Linked DNA regions of Homo sapiens. The protein of the gene in region 1 interacts with the protein of each later gene in a pairwise test. Each region holds a gene or a part of one and is shown on either strand. Other genes may lie near its edges. The genes, in order: PTPRCAP and DCDC2.

What was found.
Region 2: the proteins of PTPRCAP (region 1) and DCDC2 interact in binary tests that used the Homo sapiens proteins (3 or more experiments, as listed by UniProt).

The regions. Positions count from the first base shown.
Region 1 is NC_000011.10:67,433,184-67,443,389, forward strand, and holds PTPRCAP (protein tyrosine phosphatase receptor type C-associated protein), read right to left. Parts: upstream 4,500-10,206; 5' UTR 4,437-4,499; coding exon 4,434-4,436; exon of another isoform or gene 3,168-4,433; coding exon 2,550-3,167; 3' UTR 2,327-2,549; downstream 1-2,326. Other genes in the region: RPS6KB2 (ribosomal protein S6 kinase beta-2), read left to right, coding at 1-33, 157-264, 812-874, 1,015-1,092, 1,194-1,301, 1,399-1,511, 1,806-1,986; CORO1B (coronin-1B), read right to left, coding at 5,193-5,318, 5,488-5,766, 6,603-6,660, 6,935-7,080, 7,152-7,256, 7,942-8,061, 8,150-8,331, 8,550-8,679 and 2 more.
Region 2 is NC_000006.12:24,352,777-24,363,577, reverse strand, and holds the start of DCDC2 (doublecortin domain-containing protein 2), read left to right. Parts: upstream 1-5,518; 5' UTR 5,519-5,827; coding exon 5,828-6,120; exon of another isoform or gene 6,121-6,675; intron 6,676-9,954; coding exon 9,955-10,009; intron 10,010-10,801. UniProt on the Homo sapiens protein: Protein that plays a role in the inhibition of canonical Wnt signaling pathway. May be involved in neuronal migration during development of the cerebral neocortex. Involved in the control of ciliogenesis and ciliary length.

The DNA.
Region 1 (10,206 bases):
GGGGCCCTGATGTACGACATGCTCACTGGATCGGCAAGTCCAGCCCCCGGGGAGGAGGAGGGGCAGGGGCAGAGGTGGGAGTAGCCCCCCTCCTGGGGCAAGGGCAGGGCCTGGTGGGAGGCCCACAAGGCTCCTCTCACCTTCCTCCTCCTCCAGCCGCCCTTCACCGCAGAGAACCGGAAGAAAACCATGGATAAGATCATCAGGGGCAAGCTGGCACTGCCCCCCTACCTCACCCCAGATGCCCGGGACCTTGTCAAAAAGGTGCAGCTCCCTTCTCTCTTCTCCGGGGCCCTGCCAGCCATTCTGCACGTGTTCCTGAGTCTCTCTGGGCTGTGGGGAAGCCAGGGCCACCCCGGCCTGTGCAGTTTGCCTCTGGGAATGAAAGGAGCCCCTCCCTTGAAGTCAGGGATTGAGCCCAGGTCTCAGCCCTGTCACAGACCAGCTGCTGCCCTGGCCCAGTCCTTAGGCTGAGTCCTAACCAGTGACACGCTTGTGATGAGCTGGCCACACTTCCGTCAAAGGCGAGCATCGGAGGTGTTAGGGGGAGGCCGGACAGCCACATGGGGAGTTGGCGCCTCACCAACGCGCCCTGGGGCAATGCCAGGGCCCAGGAGCCTCTGCAAAGCCTTTGTGGAGAAGGTGGCTCCATTGACCAAACCTTGAAAGCCCTGAGGGTATCCATAGGTGGGAGCCACACCCAAAAGCATTCTCTCCCATGTCACCTGACCCCTACTCCAGCTAGCCCTGGGACCCGGGGACACATGAGCAGTACTTGCCCAGGCCCTCACCCTCTCTCCTGGTCCCGCAGTTTCTGAAACGGAATCCCAGCCAGCGGATTGGGGGTGGCCCAGGGGATGCTGCTGATGTGCAGGTGGGTTTGGGACCACCACCAGGGGTAGGGCTGAGTCTCCAAGGGTGCCGGGAATGGGGGCAGGGCCCCAGGGCAGAGGGAGTGACCGGGGGGCAAGCAGGGTGAGCTGTTAGTGGGTTTGGTGCATTCTCTACCTACAGAGACATCCCTTTTTCCGGCACATGAATTGGGACGACCTTCTGGCCTGGCGTGTGGACCCCCCTTTCAGGCCCTGTCTGGTGAGCAGCAGGGCTGGTGGCCAGTGGCCGGTGGCGGGTGGCAAGTGGAGAACCTGCATCTTGGTGCCCTCTGACCCCTCCCCACTCTGGTCGGCCCACAGCAGTCAGAGGAGGACGTGAGCCAGTTTGATACCCGCTTCACACGGCAGACGCCGGTGGACAGTCCTGATGACACAGCCCTCAGCGAGAGTGCCAACCAGGCCTTCCTGGTGAGTGCGGGGGCCTGAGGCCTGTGGGACCAGGGCACGGATCGTGACTAAGGATGGCAGGCACTGAGTGTCGCATGGCCCTGCCTCCGCCCCCCAGGGCTTCACATACGTGGCGCCGTCTGTCCTGGACAGCATCAAGGAGGGCTTCTCCTTCCAGCCCAAGCTGCGCTCACCCAGGCGCCTCAACAGTAGCCCCCGGGCCCCCGTCAGGTACTGAGGGACGTGGGGGTGTGTGGCTGGGTTAGGGACGCTGGCAGGCAGGATGCCAGCTCCAGCCTTGGGTGCCTTGGCCACGTCTGTCGGCCAGTGTTGGCTTCGGTTGCTGTGTCTATCATGGGGACCTCAGTTCCTACACCCCTTGTGGCCAGGCTGCCTGGATGGGAGTTTGTGGAGCCCGCGGCCTGTGTGCCTGGGCAGGTGGGAAAGGCTGCCTTCCCTGACTGAGTGCTGGGAGCCTCTGGCAGGGCCTAGGAGGCTCTTATTCTGCCTTGGTTTCCCCTGCAGCCCCCTCAAGTTCTCCCCTTTTGAGGGGTTTCGGCCCAGCCCCAGCCTGCCGGAGCCCACGGAGCTACCTCTACCTCCACTCCTGCCACCGCCGCCGCCCTCGACCACCGCCCCTCTCCCCATCCGTCCCCCCTCAGGGACCAAGAAGTCCAAGAGGGGCCGTGGGCGTCCAGGGCGCTAGGAAGCCGGGTGGGGGTGAGGGTAGCCCTTGAGCCCTGTCCCTGCGGCTGTGAGAGCAGCAGGACCCTGGGCCAGTTCCAGAGACCTGGGGGTGTGTCTGGGGGTGGGGTGTGAGTGCGTATGAAAGTGTGTGTCTGCTGGGGCAGCTGTGCCCCTGAATCATGGGCACGGAGGGCCGCCCGCCACGCCCCGCGCTCAACTGCTCCCGTGGAAGATTAAAGGGCTGAATCATGGTGCTGACCTGGCTCTTTGTGCTGCATGCCTAGGGGCAGGGTTGGGTTGGATTGTGCCAGGAGGAGCCCCTGGTCCAGGAGGGAGGGGTCTCTGTAGGACCACAGGGCCACAGGCTGAAGGAGTTTTATTTCAAATGGTTGCCTGATGCCTGTGGTTGGGGGGGGCCGTTCCCGTGGTGAGCGGGGTACACATGGACTTGGGAACTGGTAGGGGGTGACAGTCTGAGGCATGGTCATGTGGGCTGGGGGTCCAGTCCAGCCATGGCATCTTGGGAAGCAGAGGCACGGGGAGTGAGCGGCTGTGACAGGGATGGGACACCAAGACCGGCCTCTACAGTGCGGTGACATGGAGGCCCTGGCCCCCAGCTGCCCTGGCGCTGTCATCCCAGGCTGCGCTGCCAGCAAAGGCGTGCAGGTCACTCAGCAGGGCCTCAGCACTGCCCCCTGCGCTCGCTGGTCCTGGGGAGCCGAGGACCAGGTCGCCCTCCGTGTCACTGTCTCTGGCTTCCTCAGCCCGCACGGGGACCTGCTCTGGGCTGGACGCCTCTCCACATTGCTGCTCGCCTTCCCCAGGGTCAGCCTGCAGGCCACCATCCGCGACGTGGTCATAGTCTGTGTCCTGCTCATCCTCCTGTCGCTCAAGGTCATTGTCTGTGGACCCCAGCTCAGCTCGGGCCTGCAGCCAGCGACCTGGGGGGCTGGCCCAGAGCAGGCGCCGCGTGCGGCCCCACAGCGCGGCACCTAGGCGGGCCGGGTGGTAGTAGCCCCCTGAGTCACGGCTGAGGCGGCGCCAGGCCAGTGCTAGGCCAGTGGCCAGCAGTAGGAGCAGCAGCAGCAGCAGGACAACGGTGACAGAGCTGGAGCCCACGCTGTCCTCCGCGCTGCCACCCGAGCCCAAGGCCCCTGGCAGGGCCAGCAGCATCCCGAGCCCTAAGGTGCAGGGCAGAGCCTGTGGGAGACAGGCAGGGGCTCAGAGGGCTCAGCACCTGGGGTGGGGCCTGGTGTGGGGCAGGCTGGGTGACCAAGACCACTTTCGTTTTTTTCTCTTTGGGATCCTCTTGGGACAGCCAAGCAGAAAAGGCCAAGGCCTTATTTGGTCAACCAGGCTCTGGCCCTGTGAGATCAGCCCCCATCCCTCCAGCCTCCTCCCTACCACTCACCTCCCCCAACAGCTGCATTAAGCCACCTGCCTGGGGCCTTCGCACTGGCTGTTCCCTCTGCCCGGAAAGCTCCACCTCCTCCCATCCTCCCCTCCCCCGGGCTGCATGGCCTGCTCACCGTGCTCAAACTTCACCCCAGTGAGGCTGAACCTGACCTTAACCTCTACCCTGATGTCTATCACTGCAGCCCACCCCAGCACCCCCCAGCACTCAGTGCCTTTTTCCTTCCATGTCACCTAACGCAGGAGATAACTGTACTCATTTTTTATGTCTATTGTCTTATCTACCCCCCACAATAAGCTGCTAGGAAACGGGGGCTTTTTGGGTCAAGCATGTTAGTAGGTGCTCAATAAGTATGGATTAAATGTGTCTAGGCTGCCTGGGTGGGTGGGAGAGGAGATGGGAGGGAGGGAAGGAGGTTGCTAGCTGGTGTCAGGGCTGGCTCTCCCTGAGGCCTGGGATGGGGGATGGAGGGGCCTGGATGCACCCAGAGGCAACTGCTCATCTTCTGCTTGGCCAGGTCCCCAAACGGGGGTCCGTGAGGCCCCTCTTCCTCCCTCCCCACCACGGGGCTGCCCCAGCGGCAGGGTTTCCGTTCCACTCCCAGTCCCTGAGGGCCACAGGCGTGCAGGGCCGGGGGCTGGGGGGGGCTGGGGGAGGCGGGCGCAGCTGCCAGAGGAAGTCTGCGGTCGGAACAGGCTAGGTGGGGGGTGTCGGGGGAGGGGTGCTGAGGTGCAGCCAGCCTCCCCCACCACCCCAGGCTGTCCGCCCAGGCTCCAGGAATGCAAGTTCCCGCTCACAGGAAGACCAGGTAAGGGCCTTCCCAGGGCTCCTGACAGGGGCCTGGTCCGGTATGGGGTGCTGGGGGCCAGGCCTGGAGTCCCAGGGAGCCCAGCTCAGGTGAGAGAAAGGTTCAGCCTCTGCCATACTCCTCTTAGGTCTCACCTCTTCCCTGGGGCCAATGTGGGGCCCTCCTTAGCTCCACAGGCCCAGACATTCTAGCCCCGACCGCCTGTGGCCCCCATCCCAAGAACCCGGGGGGCTCCGAGGCTTACCATTGGTCCGCAGGCCCCTCCGTGCCGGGCACCCACCTCCAGCTCTGGCTGTGTCGAGCGAGAAGTGAGCTCAGTGCTCGTCTGCAGTGAAGGGTGGCCCAGGCTTCCGCTTCCTGCCCACATACCCCACCTGCCCCTCCCTGCTGCAGGACCCCTGGTCCACACCAGACCCTCCCCAGTCTCTCTGGAGGAGGCTGGGCTGCCGGGCCTGTCCTCCAAGGAAGAAGCAGCACCAACTTGAAGCTGGATGCAGCCTTGCATGTGTTCTCAGGTCTTCTGCCTCAGTTTCCCTGCCTGACAATCCAGGGGAGCAATGCCTGTGGGGCTGCTCACTGCCCCCAGACCTTCTGCACATGTGTGACTCCTGTGACATCCTCTGTCTCCAGGTTTCCAGACTTCTCAGCCCCACCCTTGCAGCAGCAGGTCAGCCTGGCTTTTAGAAAGAGAATTTTATTTGGAATGAAAATATAGAGCCCACCCTCCCGCCTCCTCTGGGGAGGGAGCAGAGGGCTGGGCAGTGGTCGGGGAGATGGTCCCTCAGAGGTCGAGGAGCTCGCCTGGGCGTAGACATCCTCCACAGGAACAGTGAGGAAAGCTGGGCGCTGGCTTCGGCCTGGGCCTGGGACGGGTGGGGGTGGGAACTGACCCCTGCGCTGCCTCAGAGGCTCTGGGCAGCCAGCTAGCCCGGTGCGACCCGCTGGCAGAAGCTGAGTGGGAAGGGGGCGGCGGAGGAGATGAAGGTGGCGTGTGGCTGTGGCCCTACGCATCCCCGTTCTCCATGCGGCCCAGCTGCTCCTCCAGGCGGCAGATGCGGTCGCCCTGCTCCTTGACCAGCGCCCTCAGGGCCCGCAGCTCCTGCATCACCTCCTCCAGCTTCCCAGCCTCCTGTGGGGACATGAAGCAGGGGTAGGGGGCGGTGGTCAGGGGCTGCTAAGCCATAGCCCTCCCAAACCCACCACTACCCCAGAGAGGGACAGCGAATGGCTGAAGCCCACACAGCAGGCCAGGGCCACACCTGGGGCTCCCAGCACCACCCCTGCCTGCGCGTGCATACCCCGGCTCTGGCCAGGCTGCCGCTGGGGGTGGCATCAGCAGCAGTGGTGGTGGAGGCGGGGGCCCCTAGGTGGGAGGAGCCCGGGGCCATGGCGGGCCGGCTGTCAGACAACACGTTGCGCCGGCTGATCTTCAGGTCCCGCTGCTTGCTGGGCACGTAGGCCTCCCGCAGTGAGATGAGGATCGGGTCGGCATCCCGCCCGCTCACCCACTCCTCAGCCTCCAGGGCTGCCTCGGGCCCGGCTGTGTCGGGGTACAGATCATCCTGGAAGAGGTCCGACTGGGCAGGGGGCCGGGGAGGTCAGGATCAGTTAGGAGGCCCCATCAGGGTCCCCTCATCCCTCCCCTGGCCTCCAGGCTTGCACTCTGTTAACCCATTCTCCCACGGCCTGGAAAGCTCAAATCTGGCCTTTAACTTCCTTTCTGGACACCATCAACAGCTCCCTCGGAAGCTTTCCCACCCTTCTGAGCAAGGCCCCTGTCATCACCTTCCCCTGCAAGGCACAGGGGCCACTATGTGGCTTTATGGGATTCTGGGGCCCATGGACTGTGAGCTCCTGGAGCAGGCCCTATCAGCTCAGCTCCACTCCCCAAAATGTGCCTGGCATGTTGAAAGAGCAGTCGGCAAATGCTGGCCAGAGAATCATGGAAGCGTGTCCGAGGCTCTTGGCATCTGAGGCCAAGCCACATGTGGCCCGGTCCCCTCTTCATGGGATTCCCCACTGCAGCCAGACTCCTTGTTCCTCTCTCCATTCCCACCACTGTGCCCTTCGCCTGGCCTGCCCCCAGTGGATGGCGCCACCCCAGCTGTGTTATGGGTCCTGCCTCCTTCAGGAAGATCTGTGTGGCTGCCACTCCCTCCCTGACTGCCTGGTGTCCTTCTCCTGTGGCTCATCCAGAGCAGGGCCCCTGCTCACCCTCTGTCTCATCCCCACTTGCCCCCTGACTGGCACAGCCCAACAGCTGGCTGGTACAAGGGCAAGCTGGCATCTGTCCAGCTCACTGCCCACAAACCATACTAGGTCATGTTCCATTCACAGGCCTCGCCCTGGTCACAACTGCATGGCCCGCTTGCTGGAGAAAGGGCCAAGTGAGCCGAGGGACGGGCGGCCTCACCTTTCTTGGCACAGTCATGACGATGGGCTCACACTTGCGCTCATGCAGTTTGTAGAACCTGGGGATGCAAGGAGGAGCCACGGGTGGAACCCTCACCGCCCCCCCCACCCACCGCCAGCTCTCCTGGCATCCTCCACTTCCAGTCCTCACCCCAGGACCTCCGCAGGCCGACCCCTAAGGTGGCTAGACCCCCACACGGGCTGCCTCGTGACAGTTCTCATGGCCCGCCGGGCCTCCCTGGCGCAAGGTTTCCTGCTCCCAAGCAGCCTCCAATGACCTGACCTCTCACCTTAGATGCCCCTATCCCCGAGTGGCCTCGGTAGCCCTCTTACCGGGCGATCTCGCACTTGCTGACCTCCAGGCCCCGCTTGGGCATGCTGCCCATACCCCGCTGCGGCTCCTTGCTGGTGAACGTGTTCAGGAAGTGGATGTAGGGAGGCTCCTCTGTGATCTCAAAGTACCGGATGCTGGAGTCACCCTGTGTGGGGAGGGGGCTCAGCACCTGGGCACGCCTCTTCCCTGCCCCTCGCCAGCCCTGCCCAGCCCCACCTTGCCGCAGACGTAGACCACACTGGTGTCGGGGTCGTAGAAGGGCAGCAGGGCCCCGTTGCTCGAGTCCAGTTCCTGCAGGGCCATGGGTTCCTCGAGGTTTTCCTGGCACATTGCAGGCAGTCAGGCCAAGCAGAACCTCCTCACCCCCTAATCCCAAACCAGGACGGGCCTTAGCTGGCCTCACTAAGGCCAGCCAGCACTGCCCCTAAATGCAGGTGGGCCCTCTGCCATCTCTATGCCTTTTCCCACATGACGACCCCCACCTGGCCCTCCTGGCTTCACTTTATTCCCAGGGTCCCTCTTTTCCAGCCTCCTCCAGGCCTTAAGACTATGCCCAGGCCACTAAGCAAGTGCTGAAACATACCTCACTGTGGGGAGCTGGGGTGCCAGCGGCACCAGCCCCTGCTCAAGGTGCCCTGGAGGTCACTATGCAGAAGCAGAGAGGGCTGGGGCCAGGAGGCTTGCTGGAGGAGGAGGCTTTCTGGAGGAGCGGGGAGCCCTGTGCAGGCAGTGGGTGGTACAGGCAAGCAAGGGAGAGAAGGGCCCTTCCGTTGGCATGAACAACATGGGCAAAGACACAGAGGCAGTGGGAGGCCATGGGGGAGTGGTGGGGCAGTCGGGCGAGCAGGGGGCAGGAGAGGAAAGTCTGACAGAGTCCTAGGCCCTGAGAGCCTCAAGTTCCAGGCAGAGAAGCTAGGAACCACAGGCCTCCCCAGGGTGAACCCTGCCTGCCTGGCCCAGGGTGGGGCCCAAGTCTCAAGTTTGCCCCCTCAGGCTGGCCACTCACTGGGTCCCAGAGCGCCAGCTGCCGCTCGCTCATTCGGCTGAAGCCTGTGGTGAACACCTTGCCATCTGCCAGGAAGATGGCCCGCATGGGCCGGGCCCCCTCATGAGCCTTCTCCCGCTCCTGTCGGGGGGACAGGCTGGTCAGTGCAGCGCCCTGCTCAAGGTCCTGGGCCTATCCACAGCCATCCTTGCCCTCCAGAGCCACGTACTGCCACCAGGGTGCCCCGACGGGGGTCGATGATGCGCACGCTCTTGTCCTTGCATGCTGAGCAAAACAGGCTGCCATTGTGGTTCCAGCTGACATTGTAGATGAGGTCAGGGTGCAGGCTGTCCAGGCGGTACAGCTCCTCCGCTGTGCCCACATTCCAGATGAGTACCACGTTGTCGCAGCCTGGCAGGTGAGGGTTGTCAGCTCGGGCCGGGTGGGTGGCAGGAGGCCATTAGCTCACCAGGCTGAGGCCCACTCTGCCCACCACCCTGGGACAGACGGGTCTCTCCAACTCTGAGGGCCTCAGCTTTCCCATTTGTCATGTGGGCCCTGGAGGGGCTGCTGGGATGTATGGAGGGGTCCGTGGGGGGGGGGAGCACAAAACGGGGGGCGGTGCAGACCTGCACTGAGCAGCACGTTTCGGGCCGTGGGGTGCCAGGCGATGATGCCCACTCGCTTGGTGTGCCCCTCCAGTACCACCACCGGCTCTGTCAGCGGGGAGGTCAGCCCGTTCTCTGGGATCTGCCACACCTGTGGTAGGGACAGGGCCACCGAGCTCAGTCCTCTGCTGGTCCTATTGCTGGCCCCCTTCGGCCACACCCACGACCCTGGCCCAGCCAGTCCTGTGCCTCACCATGACCGTGCAGTCCTCCGAGCCGCTGGCTATGACTTCGTCGTTGTGAGGACACCAGTCGATGTCCAGGACAGGTCCCGTGTGCCCACACACCGTCGGGTAGGCCTTGTCAATGCGGCCCGTCTGTGGGCACGAGGGGGCAGTCAGTGGGCTCCATCCCTCCCGAAGCCTTGGTCTTCCCCTCCATGGAGTGGGAATGACATGCACGTCCCGGCTCACAGGTGGCCCAGATGTGACTGTGCCCCACTTGCCAGGTGAGCAGGAAATGTTTGCTGCCTCTAACCCTGCCTCTATGGCAACAGGCTACTTTCCATCTGTGCTAACACTTGGGGCGATAAATCTGGGTTATAACACCTGCCCAGCAGTGTGAGAAACGGCAAGATGAGGGATTCAAGGTGTGCAGAAAGGCCCAGTAGGGGTGGCCGAGGTGCCTCCTCTTCCCCCAACCCTGACAGGACCCACCTTGCTTAGGGGGAGCACCAGAAAGGCACCCCCTCCACTGGCCTCCACAATCACCGCCAGGAACTTGGGGTTGACGGCGCAGAAGGTGCTGTCCCAGGTAACACGGGACACGCGAATGTCCTCATAGCACTGGTCGTTCTTGACCGGCTGCCCGAACACATGCCGGAATTTGCTCTGCCGGACCACTTTGCGGAAGGACATGTCTGCGGGACAGAGAGGCCTGGGTCAGTCCGGCCCATCCCAACAACTCCAGCCCTCCCCAGGCTGCTGAAGGTGAGCCGGGAGGATGCAACCGGGGGCCAGGCCACCGTAACCCTCCTGGGTCTCGGTTTACCCAGTTACAGAATGGGGTCACAGGTGCAGAGCCTGGCCGCCTGTCACCCCGCAGGCAGTGATCTGAGAGGTAAATGCTCCGGCCCTGACCACTGCTGAGTCCTGAGGGGCTTTGCAGGACGCAGGGCCCCTCCCTGGCTCTGGTGTGTGTCGGGGGCAGGAGGTGGGAGGTGCCGGGGTTGGAGAGCTCTCAGCTCTACTGTAGGTCCCAGCCAGTCGGGAGCAGCCTCCTTCCTGCTCCCAGAGATTTGGAGGCTAGGTAATGGGGAAGAAGGAGAGAGGAAGCAGGAAAAGTCTCTCTACTGTGGGGCCGAGTGAGTGCCCAGTTCTGAGTCCCAGGGAATGTCCAGGGAGCCCCGGCATGGCCCCCAGGAAGGGACGGGGTCGGGACGCAGCTGTGGGCCGCGAAGCAACCCAGAGCGGCCTCGAATCGGGGTCCAGGGTGAACCAGGAGCCCAACTTCCAGGGACCTCCGCCCAGGAGAGGAGAGGCTGGGCGGCCAAGGGGAGTGGGACTGAGTGGGGTAGAGGGGAGGCGAAAGGCTCCTGGGACCCGCGATCCCCCCTCAGCCCCCTCAGCCCGGCCCCTGCAGCCCCGCCCAGCCCCCAGCCCGCGCCCCTAGCCCCGGC
Region 2 (10,801 bases), on another chromosome or scaffold:
AAGCATTTCAGAGATCTAGGCTCTTGAGGAAACAGCAAATGCCTTGTTGGTATTATTATTTTTCTTTTTGATTTTTTGAGACAGGGTCTTATTCTGTTACCCAGGCTGCAGTGTAACGGCATGAGCATGGCTCACTGCAGCCTCAACTTCCCAGGCTCTGATGATTCTCCCACCTCAGTCTCCTGAGTAGCTGGGACTACAGGAGCATGCCACTATGCCCTGATAATTTTTTTAGTTTTTTGTTTTTTTAGAGATGGGGTTTTGCCATGTTGGCCAGGCTGGTCTCAAACTGCTGGGCTCAAGCAATCCACCTGCCTCAGCATCTCAAAGTGCTGGGATTACAGGCTTGAGCCACCGTGCCCTGCTGGTGGTATTATTTTTAATGCACAGCAACACTTCTTTAAGAATCTTCTTTGGCCATCTCTCTCATTCTCAATGCCTTTCATATACTTAGGAAGAAGCTAAAATACAAAAACTCTCCCCTCCTTTCCTATGTGTGTTCTCAAACATTCCCTTGCATCCATCTGAAGCTCCTCATTCCTTAGCATTCCGCTCCTCATTCTACCTCAGCTCTTCGTGATCAGGGTTTATCTAACCTTTCTGGCTTCTTAAAGCCTTCTCACTTTGCTCAGTGTTCGGACTTTGCACAAGAGAGAAGAGCTCCAAAACCAATTCAGCAAGCATCTGGAGCAGGGAGAGAGATTGCAAATATCTGACTGTTTTTGTTGTTCCTCTGCCACAGTTAAATGTGTTCTGTGAAGAAGAGAAATGTATATGTTCTAGCTTTGAGCAAATGAGTAGATGAGGGTCCATTTGTGGAGACAGGAAACATAGGAAAAGTGATTTTGAGGAAAACTTGAGATCCCGTGAACGTTTCGAGTCTAGGCTGCCTTTTAGATGGTCTAGAGAAGCTGTCAGGAGAATTGTGTGCCTGGAACTGCCTTGTTCTGGCGTGTGAGGCAACTGTTAAATTCTCAGGAATTGTAAACATGGGCATTGTTAAAAAGTAATTTTATAAATATACGATTAAATAAAAAATAATTGTATAAATATACAATTAAATAAAAAATAATTGTATAAATATACAATTAAATAAAAAAATTGTATAAATATACAATTAAATAAAAAATAATTGTATAAATATACAATTAAATAAAAAATAATTGTATAAATATACAATTAAATAAAAAATAATTGTATAAACATACAATTAAATAAAAAATAATTGTATCAACATACAATTAAATAAAAAATAATTGTATCAACATACAATTAAATAAAAAATAATTGTATAAACATACAATTAAATAAAAAATAATTGTATAAATATACAATTAAATAAAAATTGTATAAATATGCAATTAAATAAAAAATAATTGTATAAATATACAATTAAATAAATTACATTGAAAACAAAGATAATAAATACTCAAAACTCATCTCCATCTACATTTTACTACTATCTGTGCTCTTAAAGTTACACAAGTCTGCTGTGCCTGCATGGTGGAAATACCATACAATGACTTGCTACTGCACATTTCATGGCTTCAGTGATGTTAGACTGGCATCTGGAAATTGGCCATATTTGGAGTAAACTACAGAGATTGGCAAATGCTATGAATTAAGGCCTTCTCTTCCCTCCTAAAAGCCAGCAGTTAAACACTTATCACCACATCATATCCAAGAGACATCTGGATAAATGAATCTAAGCTCAGGAGACACATCCGGGTTGGAGATACCGCAGTGGGAGGCATAGACTTGATGCGGGCAGCTTCATGGGCTGGCGTCAGGGTCCCCACATCAAGAAGGACCCCATGATTGGTTTAATGCTCTGCTGTTGCTAACATAAAATTCTTAATTTTTGAATAAGAGGCCACATTTTCATTTTACACTGGGCTAATATAGATGATAGGGAATTTTAGGTTGTTTGGGGAGGGGGCTACTTAATTGATTGCCTTCCATTTCCACATAACAAGTATTCTGTCTTACTCACCTATGTGGTAGCACATTTTCACAGGTATTTTCCCCATCCATCCCTCAACCTGTGCATTCTCCACAAGCAGCTCACAAAATTTCCCTTGTCTATTTCCTCCCTGTATTGTTCTCTTTGGCCTTCTTTTGAAATTTGTTAACTTTTTTTTTTTTTAACTTTCATTTTAGGTTCAGGGGTACATGTGCAGATTTGTTATATAGGTAACTCGTGTCACGGAGGTTTGTTGTACAGATTATTTCATCACCCAGGTACTAAGCCTGATACTCAACAGTTATTTTTTCTGCTCCTCTCCCTCCTCCCACGCTCCACCCTCAAGTAGGCCCCAGTATCTGTTGTTCCCTTCTTTGTGTCCGTGAGTTCTCCTCATTTAACTCCTACTTATATGTGAGAACATGCGGGTATTTGGTTTTTTGTTCCTGCGTTTGAAAACTGTTAACTTTCAAAGCATTAATGTATTACATGGCTTTAATAAAAATATTTCTTCAGAACAGAAATCTCGAAGGAAAAAAAAAGTTTCTCTCCAGATTGCAATGTCCCACACATTCATCTTTCACAGTGATATGACTGGTTATGGAGCTTGTGGAATAAGACAGAACTGGGTTTGAACTCTCTCTCTCTCTTTCGTTTTCTAATCCTTAGAATGGGTTTGAATTCCTGTGTGTGTGACCTGAGGTAAATGTCTTTGATTTCTCTACCCTTCAGTTTCCTCATCTGAGGAAAGAATAATATTTACCTCTGAAGGTTATTGTGAATATTAGATAATCTACATAAAGTGCCTTACATAATGCCTGGTCCATGGTTATAGTGTTCAATTAATGGCAGTTCTTTTTATTCGTACATGATGAGTTAGGAACACCCAGTAATTTGGACATGACACATGGTAGAAAAGTCTTAGGAGGAATGAAGGAAACACTGGCAGAGATGAGCTGCAAAATTTCAACTCTTTAAACATTTTCCTGGTGCCACAATATGTATGTCCCAGACTGGACTGGACAAAGCGACTCTTTACTGGGGCTGTTACTATTCTCACAACTCCTCTCCCTGTTATTCCTCAGACAGAGCTAACAATCTACACAAATAGCACAGATGTGGGCTCTTGGACAGCCAGTCAGACATTTAGCCTTCTTGCGGCAGTGAAAAAATCCTTTCCCTGGCGTAAAGCTTGGCACAGGGTAGGCACTCAAAATTTTGTAGGTTTTCCTTTTCACCGCCGTGGCCCCAACTAGCACAGGGCCTTGCACACAGCAGGCGTCCATTTACTGAATGAGCGCATGATGAATGAGCGCATGATCATGTCACCTGTTTCTCCCTCTTCCTCCAAACCCCTGTTCTTCCGCCTCTGCCCCACGCAGCCAGCATATCCCAAGGAGCCAGGCGCAAGCCAGGCCTGGTTCACTGACTCGCTCCCCGCGCGAGGCTGCGGTTGCTATGGAAACAGCGGGAAATAACAACTCCGTTCCCCTTGGGTGAGAGAGGCCCGCAGAGGTAACAGCAGCTGGAGGAACAGCGTGAGCGGCGCGCAGCCGCCGCAGAGTTCACCACTGTGCCACCCGAGCCGCACCGCCCCGCCCCCGCGCGGCCGGCGCCCGAGCTCCCCTCCCCTCTCCAGCACGCGAGTGTCGGTAGGTACTACGGCGGAGGGCACCTCCTGGGCCCGCCTCCCCAACCAGGGCCCCGCTTGCGCGCTGCCTGCTGTCTTCACGTGATGCGCACCCGAGCTTCGCCGCCAGGCGGCGCTGATCATCGGGGAGGGGGTTAGGGGTCCTAGACACGCGAGTCTTCGCTCTGTTTCTCATTCATTCATTCATTCACTTAAATGTTATTTTTCCCTTCCTTCCTTCCCTCCCTCCTTCCGGGATGGGGTCTTGCTGTGCTGCTCAGGTTGGTCTCAAACTCCCGGGCTCAAGTGAGCCTCCTGCCTCAGTTTCCCAAAGTGCTGGGGTTACAGGCATGAGTCACGGTACCCGGATTCTCTCTTTCTCTCTCTGAATATATATAATATATATAAAATATATATATAAAAATATATAATATATATAAAATATATAAAAAATATATATAAAATATATATAATATATAAAATATATATAATATATTATATATAAAATATATATTATATAGTATATATAAATATATATACTATATAGTATATATAAATATATATAATATATAATATATAAAATATATATAATATATAATATATAAAATATATATAATATATAATATACATAAAATATATATAATATATAATATATATAAAAATATAAAATATATAATATATATAAAAAATATAAAATATATAATATATATAAAATATAAAATATATATTATATATAATATATAAAATATATAAAATATATAAAATATATAATATATAAAATATATATAATATATAAAATATATAAAATATATATAAAATATATAAAATATATAAAATATATAATATATATAAAATATATAATATATATAATATATAATATATAAAATATATAATATATAAAAATATATGATATATAATATATATGATATATAAAATATATAATATATATAAAATATAAAATATAAAATATATAATATATAAAATATATAATATATAATATATAATGTATAAAATATATAATATATAATATATAATATATAATATATAAAATATATAATATATAATATATATAATATATAATATATTATATATATAAATATATATAATACATATATATTATATATATTATATATAATATATAAATATATATATAAATATAATATATATATTTATATATAATATATAAAATATATATTTTATATATTATATATAAAAATATATAATATATAAATAAATAAATAAAATATATATAAAATAAAATATATAAAATATATATATAAAAAAAATATATATTTTATTTTCTAAGACAGGGTCTTGCTGTGTCGCCCAGGCTGGAGTGCAGTGGCAAAATCATAGGTTACTGCAGCCTCGACCTCCTGGGCTCAAACAATCCTCCCGCCTCAGCCTCCGAGATAGCTGGGTCCACAGGCGAATACCCTGCCCACCTACTTTTTTTTTTTTTTTTTTTTTTTAATTGTAGAGACCGGGTCAGGCTGGTCTCAAACTCCTTGCCTCAGGGGATCACAGGCGCGTTATAGAGACGGGGGCTTTCCCTGTGTTTCCCAGGCTGGTCTAGAACTCCTGGTCTTAGGCAGCCCTCCCGCCTGGGCCCCTCAAAGTACTGGAATTTGCAGGCGTAAGCCACCGCATCTGGCTTTGCACATTTATCTTCCAGCAAAGAAAAACCTGGGCAACTACATCCAGGAACTTAATTGCTTTAATTTGGGAGCAAGCAGGAGATTGAGGGGTAAAGGTGCAAGAAGAGAGAAAAGAAAAATTAGGCTGTTTGGAAAGGGTAGCACAGATATGATGTAAGAAATTGGGTTTCACCATATTTGTGTGTGTGTGTGTGTGTGCGTCCTCCTCTCTCCTGCCCTCACTAGGCGTGCCTGTTTGAAGGCCCCGCGCGTTTCCGGCTCCTGCTCAGAAGCTGTCCACCTTGATTCTGCCCGTAGCAGGTGAACCTGGTGTGGTGCGCGCACTGCGGGTCCTGATTGGCTGTGCACGCCACGGTGAAAAACTTGAGCGTCTACTCCGAGTCCTGCAAGCTCCTAGTGTCTCCTCTGGGTGGACGCCTAGGCGCACGGCCGTTACTTCTCTTTCACCTGTGGATTCGTCAGTTTCTCGTTCGTTTCAGGAGGCGATCCCGCGCCCTGGGTGCGGTGAGGCCGCTGGGACAGCGGAGGTGCCTCCCGACGCGAAGCAGCGAGCTGAGGCGGCGGCCAGCGGGGAAGATGAGCGGCAGCAGCGCCAGGTCCAGCCACCTGTCTCAGCCCGTCGTGAAGAGCGTGCTTGTGTACCGCAACGGGGACCCCTTCTACGCGGGGCGCCGCGTCGTCATCCATGAGAAGAAGGTGTCCAGCTTCGAAGTCTTCCTGAAGGAGGTGACCGGCGGCGTTCAGGCACCCTTTGGGGCCGTCAGGAACATCTACACCCCGCGGACTGGCCACCGAATCCGGAAGCTAGACCAGATCCAGAGCGGGGGCAATTACGTGGCTGGAGGCCAGGAAGCCTTCAAGAAACTCAAGTGAGTCGGTCTCCCCCACCGCCCACCCATTTAGGTGCCCTATAGTGTGGGGTTGATATGAAGAAATGCAGATCCCTACCCCCCCACACCTCAGTGGTTGAGGGGCTGTGACTTCTCGGTGTGATTGATGCCCCTCAAAACTCTCGTTGCAGTTGGGGGGTAGAGGTTGACACTGTGACTGGAGAAGGAATTTCACTTGGGTCAGCAGTAGGAGTAAACTTAAAATCTGTGTATAAACAACAGGAATCTTAAAGAAAATAAAAAGGTATCCTTGCAAAGGTTAGTGACCAAACTGATACTTTTGCGTTTTCTGTTCAGTTTTTTCTTTCCTTTTCCTTATTTTTTTTCCTTGGAAATCCATCCTTTTAATTTAAATAAACATTCTTAAAAATCACTTCCAAGTGTTGGACACTATATTGTCACCAGAGGAGAAAATTGCTCTGCATTTCCCGTACTGTTTAAATTATTTCAACCTTTCATTCCAAGTAGAATTGACAACACTCACTTTTGTGACCCTGCTCCCACCCCCTGCATGTTTATGCTGTTAGCATAATGCAGGAAGAGTTTACTGGCTGACTGTATTTGTCGACTGTCTGTCTCCAGCAACGTGATTAGACCTTCAAGGGCAGGGGTCCTTATTCCCAGCTCTTGAGCTCACTCATAGTGAGTGTTCAGTGAATTAAGAAACCGTCAGTTCAGGGAACAAAGATGAGCAAGGCATGATTCCTTGTCTTTAGGAGCTTTCAGTCTAACTGGACTACCTGCACACTAACAATTTTAATGCAAGCTACAAAGGGATATGTGCATAGAAAAATAAAGTTATGTGGGAATTGTGAGTTGAGAGTTGGTTGGGGTGGTCATTATAGGACAGGTAGAATTTTACATTCCATTTTTTTTTTACAGCTTTATTGAGATAGATTTCTCATGGCATGAAGTCCAACCATTTCATTGGCTTTCAGTGTATTCAGAGTTGTGCAACCATCACCACCAACTAATTGTAGTTCATTTCCACCCCTCCCGCCAAAACATTTGTACCTCCCAGTTTCCTCTGTCCCCTGTCATCTGGAAACCACTAATCTATTTTCTGAATCTATGGATTTGTCTATTCTGGACATATCATATAAATGGAATCATACGGTATATGGTCTTTATGTCTGGCTTATTTCACTTACTGTAACATTTTCAAGGTTCATCCATGTTGTATCATACATCAATACTTCATTCTTTTTATTGTTGAATAACATTCCATGATTTGGGTATATTACCTTTTATATCCATGCTTATCCATTTATCAGTTTGATGTATATTTGGGTTGTTTCACATTTTAACTATTATGAATAATGCATCTATGAATATTTGTGTACAAGTTTTCATTTCTCTTTGGTGTATACCTAAGAGTGAAATTGCTGGATCACATGGTAACTCTGTATTCCATAGTTTAATAGAACATTTTAATTGAAATTCATCTTGGGCCCCAGGATAGAAAAAAGCCTTGACCATAAATCTAAGCTTATGAATTCATAAGCATTATTGGATTCTTAATAATTAAAATTCAAATAAAGTCTTATAACTACATAGAAATATTTTTCAAAATATCACTAAAATTCTTGAATGTAATCCTTCTTCTCCTATATTTGTTTAAATTGAGTTCTAGGTATTCTATTATACTTTTTGTTACGTCAGACATTCTTTTCATGGAAAGTGAGGGATATATTTGGATTTATTTTTCCCTCCCCTGAAGCTTCTTAAGCATGCTTTGTTAAACTTCGTAAAAAAGGGCTAAATGAAATTGCATGCTTAAAGGAAACTTAAAACCAGGAGACTGAAGACTGAGTTGCTCATCAGCTCTGTGTCCTTGGGCAAGTCGCTTGACTCAGCTAATCAGTTTCTTAATACAGAAAAGGTGCATAATCATTTGTACCACACAGGGCTGTGATAAAAAGTAAATGCTATAGATGTGTGTTTTGTAAACACCAAAGTGTTACATAAATATAAGACACCTCTATGACCAGTTCCTTTTGTTACATACTTTATTTTTTATTAAATATTTCCGTCTAAAGCAATTTCGTGGAAATGAAAGTCTGGTTCAGAATCTCTGAACGGCTGAAAATTGTAGACTCACTTTTATAGTTCATGTTCTTTTGTTTATTTGATCCTACCAACTCACAAGATTAAAAAAAAAAGGTACAGTTCCACACCAAATAAAAAAGTGTACTCAAGTCTCTCTAAGAGATTTGCATGTTATTTTTGCTTTCAGTTCATACACAAAAAACTGAATTTGTTATAACAGTGTCCATGGTTAGGTTTCCATGCTGACAGATGACTATTTTATTTGTGTTAAAGAAGTAGTATCTACGGTTATAATGATAGAAGCCAAGAATACTTGAATGTTGAATATATTTGAAACTTAGCACTTATAAGTTTATGTAAAGAATGGAGAAACTGTCAGAACAAAAGAAAGCCCAAACGATATTGAGGACAATTCGTGGGCTTTCATTTAGACCCTAAATGTTGGGAAAGACAGCAACATCTTTTTCAAATGGAACTGATCAAATCGCTGCTTGAATTGCTTTCACTTAGATTTTTCTAATATTTTTGAAACGATAACTAAACATCAGGTAGCTATTAAACCCTTATTTATTTCAAATGTGAGACCATACATTCACAACCTTTATTTTACAGCAGAGGATTCTAGAGAGTATTTCCCCCAAAACTTTCCCTGTGCATTGTTGGAAGTTGACTCTGCAGCATTAATCTTGTGGATCTGAAACCACTTTCCTGCACATGACAGAATATTTTGGTATTATTTCAAAACTCAGCCCCTGCAGGTCCACAAAAGACCCATTTTATTGCTAAGACGGAGTGTTTGCACTGTTTTAAAAATATGACTACTTTTATATAGGGGCATTGTATGACAATTTCCAGAGATATGAATTAACTAAAGTATTTTATCCAAAAAGGCAAACAGCAACAATAAAAACATTTCAATAGCCAAAATTAATTCTAACATAAGCTTTTTTTGGGACAAGTTGGCAATTGTAGTAGTTGGGGTAAAGGATTGATCTATCATTATAAATTATATGTTAGATTTATACTTTTTAATATTAAAATGTTTATTTAGCACATTTTATGTATGAAGCACAGTTTAGGGACCATTTAAAACTGGAACCACATCACAGTGATATTACACGTGAAGTTGACAAAGGTATACAGTTTTCAGGTTGTGCTTATGTAACAGCTAAAGAATGATCACTGTTAGTATCTAGAGCAAATAGTAATGGAATAATAGGGGTCTCCAGAGGTTAACTAGTCCACCCATCTGTTTCTTAGCTGAACCAATTACCAAAGTCATCCCACATGAGTGAGTGTTTTTGTATCATTAAGGTGCTCTCATAGAGACAATAATTTCTCAGCCTTTCCCAGTTGTTACCCTAATGCACGCTATCAGTACTTCCTTTGACCTAAAGCCTGTATTTAATGGAACAGTTAAGCAGCTTTGCACATAAGCCACTCTTTTAAAAAATCAAATCTGTAAGAATATAGTGTATATAGTAAGCAGCTAACTATTAAGAGGGAAAAATGTTCTCTAATAGATGTATGTATTTCTAAGACTTTCCTTCTCTTGAAGTTTAGGGTAGACATATGTCAGCTCTGGTTGGTGACACTGCAAACAGTTTTTACTATTGTAATTGCTTTTCATTAGTAGCTATTTGTTTTTGCTTTAAGGTTGAGAATTTCCTATGAGTTGCTTTATTTTTTTATGATTTTTAAAAATAAATTACTGACTTAAAGTCTATAAAAGCAACTCTTATTGTTTGTTTGTTTTTTCCTCAGTTACTTGGACATAGGAGAAATCAAGAAAAGACCAATGGAAGTTGTTAATACAGAGGTAATGCAAATATTATTTTGAAAATTCAAATAAATAACGGTGCCATTTGTTTCTTATGGTGTGTCTTAGAGATTTGGACGGCATTCTACTTTGATGAGTTCTCTAATGTAAAGAAATGGAACATTATATGTTTTAAGGCAAAGATAATTCTTTCTTTGAATCATTGTCAGAAATGAAAAGACTGAGTAGATGTTCTAAGATGTGCAGGATATGTCAAGATTAGACAAAACATATTTTTCTCTTTTCTAGCTACATGTTCTCTGATTGAAATCCATGGGAAGGTTCCCTGTCAAGTGAGAAGATTCTGAGCGTTGTTAAATAAATCTTTACCAAAGCTACATCCTCATCCTAATGTGCCTCTGATAACTCAGTGTTTGATGTAGCCAGGGTCACCCTAACTGCCCCTGAGGCTTTCAAAGGAGATGAGTAGATGTCACGTTGGACACTTTGTGATGTCAGGAAAACACCTGTGTTTTAGCTTCTATCGAAGTACGAGTTAAGCATAGTTCGTGAAAGCTTATGTGAAGGTTGGAAAAGGAGCTTGTGAAATATTCACAATACCGCATTCCACGTAGCTTCTGAAACCCTGGTGGAGTTTTAGGTATTCTGTAGGATGTATTCTTTAGTTTGTGAATGAAAAAATAGATTAAAAACAAAGTTGGGGCCACAGCCTGAGACAGGGAAAATTGTAGTTAGATCCAGAATAGGCCTCTGTTCACCAGCCCAGACAGCCACTCTTCCCATTCAGACCCCAAATAAACAAGTGCTTCCAATGGGTAAGTGCTGCCAATG